Linked DNA regions of Homo sapiens: region 1 is linked to region 2. A link means that fine-mapping ties the variant in region 2 to the expression of a gene that starts in the linked region. Tissue or cell type: testis. Region 2 holds a variant in brackets; the other region holds the start of a gene. All regions are shown on one strand. Distances are from middle to middle.

What was found. PIP is the estimated chance that this variant, and not a neighbour inherited with it, causes the effect.
Region 1: it holds the start of GFRA2, and the variant in region 2 is fine-mapped to the expression of GFRA2 in testis (GTEx, PIP 0.97). The same link has a PIP of 0.9 or more in thyroid and whole blood.

What each region holds. Positions count from the first base shown.
Region 1 is chr8:21,786,931-21,792,057 of GRCh38, reverse strand. GFRA2 (GDNF family receptor alpha 2) reads left to right here and starts at 3,183. Exons shown (of 9, transcript NM_001495.5): 1 at 3,183-3,938. The coding sequence starts at 3,899.
Region 2 is chr8:21,690,932-21,696,101 of GRCh38, reverse strand. GFRA2 (GDNF family receptor alpha 2) reads left to right here. Exons shown (of 9, transcript NM_001495.5): 8 at 1,585-1,638; 9 at 2,702-5,170. The coding sequence ends at 2,824. Among named protein-coding and RNA genes, the nearest start is that of GFRA2, 95 kb to the left of the region's middle. RefSeq lists an enhancer at 2,783-3,283. The variant T/G (reference allele first, on the strand shown) is at 2,846.

The sequences.
Region 1 (5,127 bases), 96 kb before region 2:
TCTGTGATGGGGAGGGGCTGTGGGCAGGAGGCTCAGCTGCTGGTGAACTCAGGAGCACTGGAATGAGCCAGGAAGGCTGTAAAAGGACTCAGGCACTACGGAATGTGTGGAAGTCTGTTGGTGAGCCTAGGGCTTGCCTCCTACCTGCTAGAGACTTCACATTTTCCTATGACTACCTCTTACGACAGCTGCTTAATAGTCTCTGTTGCCCTTGAACCCCTGTAGCTTTTTGTTTCTGCTTCTCATTTGCCCCTTAGGTTTTATTGCCTTGTCATAGGTCCCTAATTCTTCTTCTAGAACCCAGAGCAAAGCAGTAAACAACTTTATATGGGCCAGGCATTGTACTAGCCGCTTTGTGTAGTATCTTATGTAATTTCTACAACGTTGGTTTATCTTTTTTAATCCCCATTTTATAGATGAGATGACTGAGGTTCAGAAGTCCTCTTATCTATAAGGTGTTATAGTACATGTTCAACTGTGTTTCCTCTGTAGATCCCGGCACAAGGCAGGGGGTCTTCCTCATGGCAGATGCTCAGGAAATAAGGGATGATGCCATTTTTAAGAGCAGTTTGGGTTGAGTGTTGGGGTGGGCAGAGGGTGGGGTGTCATGGGATACGTCTGTATAGGCAGTAGGTAAGAGAGGGTCCAAGGTCAGAGTGCCCTGCAGTCACACAAGCTGAATGCTGGTGGTGACTGATTGGTGTTCTCTACTGTTCTTGGGATGGCTGGGTGGTCTTGGGTCGCAGAAGGGCCACTTACCTCCTGCTACCGGAATCCTCTTTCCTACTCCCGTGGGAGCTCAGTGAGAACCATCCCCAGGGCTTCATTGCTGCTTTCTCAGCCCCATTTTCTGGATAGGTGGGAGGGGAGAACTACATATATGATTCAGAGAATTTCTCTCATTATGCTCAAATGAAGTTAAAAGAAAGTGAAATTCTTTTTTGTGGGGAAGGGGAGAGGGATATGCTGAGCAGAAATTCTGGAGTTTGGAGCAGGGTCCTTGGAAGGGGGAAGGCCTGCGTGAGATTCCGAAATGGGTGGTGGTGGGGAGTATTTGGACAACCAGAAGACCCTGGAAGTCGAGGAGATGAGAGGGGGGACATTCATTTAGGCCAGGCTCCCAGCCTCGGGCCTCCAGGCCAAGCCTGCCTGGCAGTGTAATTCCTGTCAAGTTTTATCTTTTAACCTACACTTATCCAAAGCCGGTTCCTTATGCTCCCCAATTTTTGGAAAAAAAGCCAAGAGACCTTGTCAGATGCGAAGTCACTTCCTAGAACATGAGAGGCTTGGAGGAATGACAGGGAGGGCAGGCCTGAAGGGGGCTTTCCCCAACTCCAATCCCTAAGCCCTCTGTCCCAGACTCGTCACTACCCAGCTAGGGCCTAGGCTCGAAGCAGGCACAACTGGATGGCTGGGGGAGAAGATGGAGGGAGGAAGGTCGATGCCCCAGGACGGACCACAGGAAAGAGGCGTTCACAGGAGACTCGCTCTCTGTGCTTCCAAGGCCGGGAGCAGCCGCCTTCCCGCCTAAATCCTCAAGATGGAAGTTGCTCCCTCTAGCTTTCCCAATAGCTAAGGCTGCTGGTTTTGTTAGTGACCCCTCCCTTCTCGTCCAAGTCGATTTCTAGCATTTACTGGATTCCAGAGTCTTGTTATTTAAGAATGCATCTTAAACGGTACTATCAAATTCATGTTACGTGCAGCCCAGATTGTTTTGGGCAGCACGAAAAGTTTCTGAGGCGCTGCGTGTACCCCACCCCAGGACACCGTGTGTGCGCGCCGAGCTGAGTGCGAGGAACGTGGCGCGAGGGCCGGGGGATGCCGGGCTGCGTGGGTGTGAGCCCTCGCGCGACCGCGACCCCGCGCCTCTCCCGCTCTCGCCGGAACGTGACCGCAGCCGCACCTCTCCTCCAGCCCTTTCCCAGCCAGACGCTTCCTTTTAGGTCCTTCTGGGCGTTTATTGTAAATTCTGCGACTAAAACACGCCGGTGAGCCCGGCCCACCGACAGATGGATCAATCGCCCCCTTCCCGGCTAGGGGAGGAGGAACCCCCCAACCCCGGAGCCTAGGGAGCCGGGAGCTGCCTCGGGACGAGCTCCTCGGAGCCCAGCCGGCTGCGGAGCCCCGGCCCGGGTCGGTCTCGGGGCCCTCCTGCCGGGGTGGGGTGCGAGCCCCTGCCCGATTCCTCTGGGGCGGTTCAGGCAGGTTTGCCGGCCTCCGAGGAGGTGGTCAGGGCGCCCTGGCCCAGCAGGCTTCTTCCCGAGCCGGGGGGAGGGGAGACCGGCTGGGGAAGGGGCATCTCGAAGGGGTGGAGGCCGGGGCGGGCGGGAGGCAAGCGCGCCGCGGGCGTGAGGGCAAAGTTCCCGAGGTCCGCGCGGAGAGCACACGTGTATGTGCGCGCGGGGCTAGGCCGGGGCCGGCAGGATGCGTTGGGTTCGGGGGCGCGCGGGGCCGGCGCCGAAGGGGATAATTCCTTTCCCTGGCACCATCGGGGAGACGCTTTGTCGGCCTCGGCTCCTGGGCGCAGGGACGCCTTAGCCCACGGAGGGTGGAGCCCCCCTCAGACCCGGGCCACCGGCTGGGGTTTTTCTAACGCCCTGCCCCCCGAGCCCCCGGATGGCTCGGGCCCCACGGACTCCGCGCCCTCCAGCCTCAGCTCAGCTCCCCAGGCTTCCCAGACCCAGCGGCGCAGGGGGCGGGGGCAGGGGCAGTGGGGGTTGGAGGGCGCAGCCGGTCCCCAGGGTGGGGAGAGCTGCGGGGGGAGGAGGAGGAGGGTGCCGACGCTTGAGTGGGTTCGAGCCCGAGCCGTAGCCGGGGGAGCCAGTCAGTTTCCGGCCAAGGCAGCAGGTCAGTCCCAGGAAGGGCGGGCGATTGAGCCGAGGGAGCCGGCGGCTGGGCTCTCCTCTCGGCCCGCGATCCCCGGCGCCGCCGCCGCCGCCACCGCCACCGCCACCGCCTTCGCCTTGTCGCCGCCGCCGCTGCAGAGCATCGTAGCTCCGCCGCGCTCCCGCGCCCCGCGCCCCGCGCCGCCAGCCGCCTGGGAGCCCGAGCGCCGAGCCCGGGGCGGAGGAGAGGGGCGCTGGCGCGAGAGCCCGGGCGAGGGAGCCGCGAAGGGAGAAGGGGGCGGGCGGAGGGAGGAGCAGGGAGAGTGGGAGAAGGGGGAGGGAGAGAGGAGAGCGAGGGAGAGCTGGAGAGAGCGAGAGCAAAGAGCGAGCGAGGGAGAGGAGAGAGAGAGAGAGGAGAGAGAAAGACACACGCACGCAGAGACACACGGTCACTGGAATTCCATTAGAAAAAAGTGAGCCGAGCAAGGGTTAGCGGGAGAAGATTTTTTTGAATCTTGTCTTCGTCTTGGTGCGAAAGAAGCGACTCCAGTCTCTCGTCCTCGAAGCTCCGACTGGATTGTTCTTGGGCGCTGACACCCGTCTGTGGATTTCTTTTCTATTTGCATTTTATTCCGACCCCCTCCCTCGCCGCTTCCTTCCAGCCCTTCACTCGCAAATCGCCTCTCTCCCCACCTCCCCAGGCCCCTCCTGGGAAGCGCAGGGGAATTGGACCCGCGGGGACTCACGCCTTCCCGGACGATTGGAGGGGAGGGCTGACCCCAGGACTGGGCTGTTGGCTTAGAAAGCCGATACACAGATACGCGTATATTTGATTGTAGCGGGCAAGGGGGGCGTCGAGAGGCAGCAGCCCATCGCCCGCCTCTCACCCCACCCCCTCCAGCCAGAGGCGAGAATCGCAGGACTCGGGATCTTCATCGGGTGGACTAGCTGGGATCTCCGCATTGGATTTGGGGCTGATTACCACTGCTTGCCTATTATTATTGTTGTTGTTACTACTATTATTTTTTTTTACCCAAGGGAGAAAGACAAAAAAACGGTGGGATTTATTTAACATGATCTTGGCAAACGTCTTCTGCCTCTTCTTCTTTCTAGGTGAGTACCTGCGGGCGGCGAGCTCGAGGGGGAGGCGAGAAGCCGGGGAGGCGGGGGGCGAGCGGAGCGCCGGTGGGGGGCTGGCGGGAGGTCGGCGGGGAGAGCGCGCCGCGGAGCTAGCCGGGCCCGGTGCTGGCGAACCGAGCGGGGCCGGGCGGCAGGGACGCGGACGAGGGACCGGAGCCGCGGCTGGCTGGCGACGCAGGGGGATCGGGAGGGAGACTCAACATCCGAACCAGCCCCGCAGACACTGTGCACGCACACACACACCCGCGCTCGCTCACACGCCAGTATAGCGCGCATCTCCCCCGAAATAATGGGTTCGAATTGCGGCAACTTAAGAAAAAAAAATATCCAACTCTTGATCTGCAAGAAGGGAGGGAGAGAGAGGCTCCTAGGCGGGGAGAGAACAGTCCTGCGGGGTCCGCCTTTCCTGGTCTGCTCCCCGAGTCGGTCGTGGTGGAGGGCGCGGGTTTCTCCGGCGGCTCCCGCTTGGACATCGCGCGGGGAGCGCTGGCAGTCACTCCCCACCTGCCAGCCGCGCCTGGCAAACGGAGCCCGCGTCCCCACGCCCTGAGCCCCTAACCGGCGGCTCCACTCCCCGGAACACTTTTCAAGTTTCTCCCCACCGAGCCCCGAGCCAGATGGGTGGGCGGGAGCGGAGGGTTGTGAGCAGCCGTTCCCGGCCTTCCCTCCTCCACCTCTGGGGGCCGCGGACCCCCGTGGCTGGTGGGAAGAGGCGGGAGGGAGGCCAAAGTTTGCTTTCTCCGTTGAAGAGGGTGGGAGGCGAGGGAGGAAAAACGGGTCTGAACAAAGACCACTGCTCCTTCTGCAAACCCCCCCCACTGCCCCCCCCGCCGCCTCCAAGACAGGGAGGAGAGGCTGCCTGGCGCCACTGAGCCCCACGCAGTTTCTTTTCCACACAGAATTCCCAGCTCCTCTCTCCCTTTAAAGCTAGGTGAAATCGCAGCTGCTTGGGAAATGGCAATCTCCGGAGGGAGGTGAGGAAAGGCGGTTGTTTGCAAGGCTGTGCACCACCGGGAGTCCCAGGCAGGGCTGCTGCCAGGGAGTAGACGCTCCCATAGAGGGAGCCGGGTAACTACTGTGTATGTGTGTGTGTGTGTGAGTGTGTTTGTAAGGAGCACACGTCTGCTTCAGTGAGGGTGTAGTTCTACCACCTTGGCTTGCT
Region 2 (5,170 bases):
AGGAGGGGGAGGGGAGAGAGGGGGGAGGGGACACAGGAGATGGGGAGGGGACAAAGGAGAGGGCTCCCAATGGTTTAGTGAGCTCTGTTGGGGGTAGGGATGTAGGGATAAGACATGGACTCCCAGAAAGGGCGGGGACTGGCCTGCCACACCTGAAACAATGAGAGTAGGAAGTGACGCTGGGTGTCCGTAGGTGTCAGGCCACAGGCACAGACTCCAACAAGCCATAGGATGTCACAAGTAGGGACTGAGGTGACTGAGCAAGGATTGGCCAAGGGACTCGGGAGGACAGATGCGAGGCCATTATGACAGCACAGCCTCTGAGGGGGTGGGCGTGTTCTTTTTCCCTGACACCCTTCCCCGTGGCCTCACAGTCTTAGCTGGAACAGCACCAAGTCCTGGGGAGTGGAGTCCAGGCCTTGGGTCTGGAAGAGTTGTCGAGCACGTGCCCTTCTGCAGAGGGCAACAGCTGGGGAGTTGGCTGGGCATCACCTTGGCACCTGGGGACACTCCTGGTTCCATTCTCGCTGTGCTAATCATCACCGTGGTCCTATCTCCACCATTGGCAGTGACTCTACTCTTGGCCAGCGTCTCCATGTGACAGCTGGGGTCTTGTTTAGCTGACCAGATGCCCTGGGTGGTAGATTGCCTGTGATGTCCAAGGGGTTATTGATACTTCTGGCCGAGGGCAGTGATTGCGGCATAATTTCTTGGGCTTCCCAGTTGCTTTTGGTGGCCAGAACTTCCCTGGAAGTGCCCTGGGAACAAGCCATTTGAATCCTGGATGGAAGCGCTGCATCCCCAGCTGGTTCCCATGGATCTCCATTACAGTGATGATAACAGAGGGCCGTTCATCATGTGCGCCCTCTGGCCCTGCATCCAGGTGGCCACACCAGGGTAGACAATCTTGGAATCATTACCAAGGCAGCCCTTCTCGTCCCTCACCTTGCCCACAGTGTTCCCAGGTGTGCACATCCGTGTAGGACAGAAATGGGCTGGTGCAGTTGCCAGATATCCACCTAATGGACCAGTGGCAGACATCACTAATCAATCATGCCTCTCTTCCCCTCAAGCCCAGATGAATGCTCATGATCTTTTTATATAGAGCCCTCCATCAGCCATGGCAAATTAACAGGAGTTGGCTCTTGGAGGCTGTTTATGATCTGTGACATTCATTCATTCATTCATGGATGCAGGCATCTAGTGAAACATTTGTTGAGTTGTTGTTATGAACCAGACACTGCTCAGTGTGAGGAAAAGAAGACATGGTCCCTGCCCAAGAGTTGCGCTGAGTATATGGACAGACATGCGAATGGCTGATGACTATATAATGCCGCTAGTTGGGAGCAGAGTTAGAACTCTGTTCTCCAGGAGCCAGAGGAGTCGGGTCCTAATTGCTGAGGGTGTCAGAGAAGGGCAGAAGCCTTTTGTGCTGGGTGGAATTGAGCTACCCTCTTCACCGTGTGCGCTGGCTGTGCTTAGCGGAGCCAACAGTGCATGGCGGGGCCTCATCTAAGTCTCTGGACAAAGCCCAGCCAGGAACAGCCTGGTGACTCGTCCTGACTGGCACCTTCTCTCTCGCAGGAGCAGGGGCTGAAGGCCAACAACTCCAAAGAGTTAAGCATGTGCTTCACAGAGGTGAGTTGGGGGCAGAGTGGGGATGGGTGCAGAAGGCTGGGCCGGTGGGGGGCGGCATTTCCCCGGCGAGCCTCAGATCCAGCGCCCTCAAATCTCATCGCATGGGCTGGGCCAGCTGAGCTTCTGGACCAGGGTGGGCACTTACTCTGCTGGGGTGGGGTGGGGGAGTGCGAAGGCTGCATCCAGGGCCCCTGGCTCTCTCCTTGGGGAGAGACAAATGGCTGCTCTGAGCAGAGGCCCTCCCATGCCTTCCTTACTCTCTTAAGACAGTTGTGTCGACCACCTGCTCGGCACTGTTGCTGTGATATTTAGGAGGCACAGAAGTGGAAACAGACACAGTTCTTCCCTTGAAGAAACCCCCACTATAGGAAATATATATATATATAAAAATAAATAAATATATATATAAATATATATATATCTCATATATATGACGTATATATAAATATATATATCTCATGTATATGACGTATATATATATATGACTTATAGACCCAAGACAGTAACTTAGATGAGAAGAAAAGGCAGTGTGAGACCTCACAGAAGAAAGAGAAACTCAGACAAAGATGTTCAGGGAGGGCTTCATGGAGGAGTGGGGATTGGAAGAAATTGAGAAACAGGGCGAATGTGGGCTCCCTTGTCTCCCCTCCCCTCCCCTTCCCTTCCTCTCTCCTTCCCCTCTCCTTCCTCTCTCCTCTCCTTCTTCTTCTCTCCTCCTTCTTCAGCTCTTTATACCATCTGCCTCCTCACTGGGACGCAGGTCCTCAGCCCTGATGCAGGGAGGAGTAGCCTGTTATCCTGGTGACCACTGCCCTCCTCTCCAAACCCCAGGGCTTGTGACCAGAAGGGACAGAGCATTCCCTTCTGCTCCTGCCTGGGCCAGCTCCGGGAGAGTCAGCGCTCCCTTCAGAGTGCAAAGGAGGGTCCCTGTGGGTGGAAGAGAGGACAGGGGCTTGAGGTGTCCAGTTCCTGAGTCCGTTTCTCTGCCGGGTCCCAGGCCTCCTGACTGTTTTCTTTGTTTTCATTCTCTTTGTTCCTGATTCTTCTCCTGCTGCGGACTCAGCTCACGACAAATATCATCCCAGGGAGTAACAAGGTGATCAAACCTAACTCAGGCCCCAGCAGAGCCAGACCGTCGGCTGCCTTGACCGTGCTGTCTGTCCTGATGCTGAAACTGGCCTTGTAGGCTGTGGGAACCGAGTCAGAA[T/G]ATTTTTGAAAGCTACGCAGACAAGAACAGCCGCCTGACGAAATGGAAACACACACAGACACACACACACCTTGCAAAAAAAAAATTGTTTTTCCCACCTTGTCGCTGAACCTGTCTCCTCCCAGGTTTCTTCTCTGGAGAAGTTTTTGTAAACCAAACAGACAAGCAGGCAGGCAGCCTGAGAGCTGGCCCAGGGGTCCCCTGGCAGGGGAAACTCTGGTGCCGGGGAGGGCACGAGGCTCTAGAAATGCCCTTCACTTTCTCCTGGTGTTTTTCTCTCTGGACCCTTCTGAAGCAGAGACCGGACAAGAGCCTGCAGCGGAAGGGACTCTGGGCTGTGCCTGAGGCTGGCTGGGGGCAGGACAACACAGCTGCTTCCCCAGGCTGCCCACTCTGGGGACCCGCTGGGGGCTGGCAGAGGGCATCGGTCAGCGGGGCAGCGGGGCTGGCCATGAGGGTCCACCTTCAGCCCTTTGGCTTCAAGGATGGAGATGGTTTTGCCCTCCCTCTCTGCCCTCGGGTGGGGCTGGTGGGTCTGCAGCTGGTGTGGGAACTTCCCCACGGATGGCGGTGGAGGGGGTTCGCACCGTGCTGGGCTCCCCCTGACTGTAGCACGGAGTGTTGGGGCTGGGGGCCAGCTCCAGGAGGGCTTGAGAGCTCAGCCTGCCTGGGAGAGCCCTTGTGGCGAGGCATTAAAACTTGGGCACCAGCTTCTTTCTCGGTGGCAGAAATTTTGAAGTCAGAGAGAAACGGTCCTTTGTTGGCTTCTTTGCTTTCTCGTGGGTCCTTTGGCAGGCCTCCCTTTGGGGAGAGGGAGGGGAGAGACCACAGCCGGGTGTGTGTCTGCAGCACCGTGGGCCCTCAAGCTTTCCTGCTGTCTTCTCCCTCCTCCTCCTTTCCCCTTTCTCTTTCCTCATTTCCTAGACGTACGTCAACTGTATGTACATACCGGGGCTCCTCTCCTAACATATATGTATATACACATCCATATACATATATTGTGTGGTTTCCCCTTTCTTTCCTTTTTTTAAGCAACAAAACTATGGAAATAATACCCCAACAGATGAGCGAAAATGTATTATTGTAAAGTTTATTTTTTTTAATACTGTTGTCTATAATGGGGAAAAAGGACATTGGCCCCGCAGTGCCCTGCCCCAGTCAGCCTGGCTGGGCTCTGGTGGGGGCTCCTGATCCGCATCCAAGCTTAACCAAGGCTCCAATAAACGTGCTAGGAAGCAAGCTGCCTCTGCCTCGGTCCCGTGGGGTTTTGCCCCCATTTTGTTCTTGGTCCAGTGTTACCTGCGTAAGTGGAGCTCCCAGTGGGCTGGGGAAATGTGTGTCCGTGTGTGTGCCTGTGTGCATGTGTGTGCATCCATGTGTCTCACCCATGTGTCCACATTGTGTGTAGATGGAGCTCTCTTAGGAGCTGGTTTGACACTGGGGGCGGGATCTGAGGGTCCACGCTGTGCTGAGCCTGGTGGGCTGTTCTGTTCCCTCTTTGCTCACTTCTCCAGTTGGCGCAAATGCCTGTGGCTCCCAGGCTGGAAGAGAATGCAGTGGACGTGGACGTGGTGGGGAGCCACAGCTTGGCATCACACGTTGGGAATGTTTTATTGTCAGGCTGTCTGGGTGGCCCTGTTAGTCTTACATAGAGCAAAGTGGTATGTCCCTCTGGGACTCCTGGCTTATTTGAGATGTGTGATTGTGAGTGCAGTGACCTGGCCTTTTGGGTCCCACCAGAGAAGAAGGACATGACTGTGCATGTTCTGGGGTCATGGTCTGAAAGCATAAGTATTTTTTGGGTCTCCCTCTATTCCTTCCTTTCCTGTTTCTCCATTTGCTACCCAGGCCCCACTTGGACACTAGGCCTGCCATAGTCTCCAAGAGAGATTCTCCCCAGAGAGGACCAGGAGAATGCCTGCTGGCCAAGTGTGTGTGTGTCCATGTATGTGAGCATGTGTACATGTGTGTGCGGTCGTGTGCAGGCTCGCACATGTTCACGTGCACGTGTGAATATATACCCATGGCAGGAGGGAGAATGGAAGACTGGTAGGCGAGAAGATGTTTCTACTGTCAGCCTGGCCTTCAGGGCTGCATGTGAGCCCATCCCATTTCAACTGGACAATAGGATGCAGTTTTCCCATCTCCCAATCGCAGGTCCCCTCAATGGCTTTTGCTTCTGGTTGTATATGTGTGAGCAGCATCCGTTCACAGCGTTTATCACTGTGGTGTATTGCCTTCCAGCCTCTGCATGGAAGGGGTACAGTGAGCCAGCCAGGTCTCTGTCCAGCCATTGCGGGTAGACGTGGTCATGGCATCCACTTA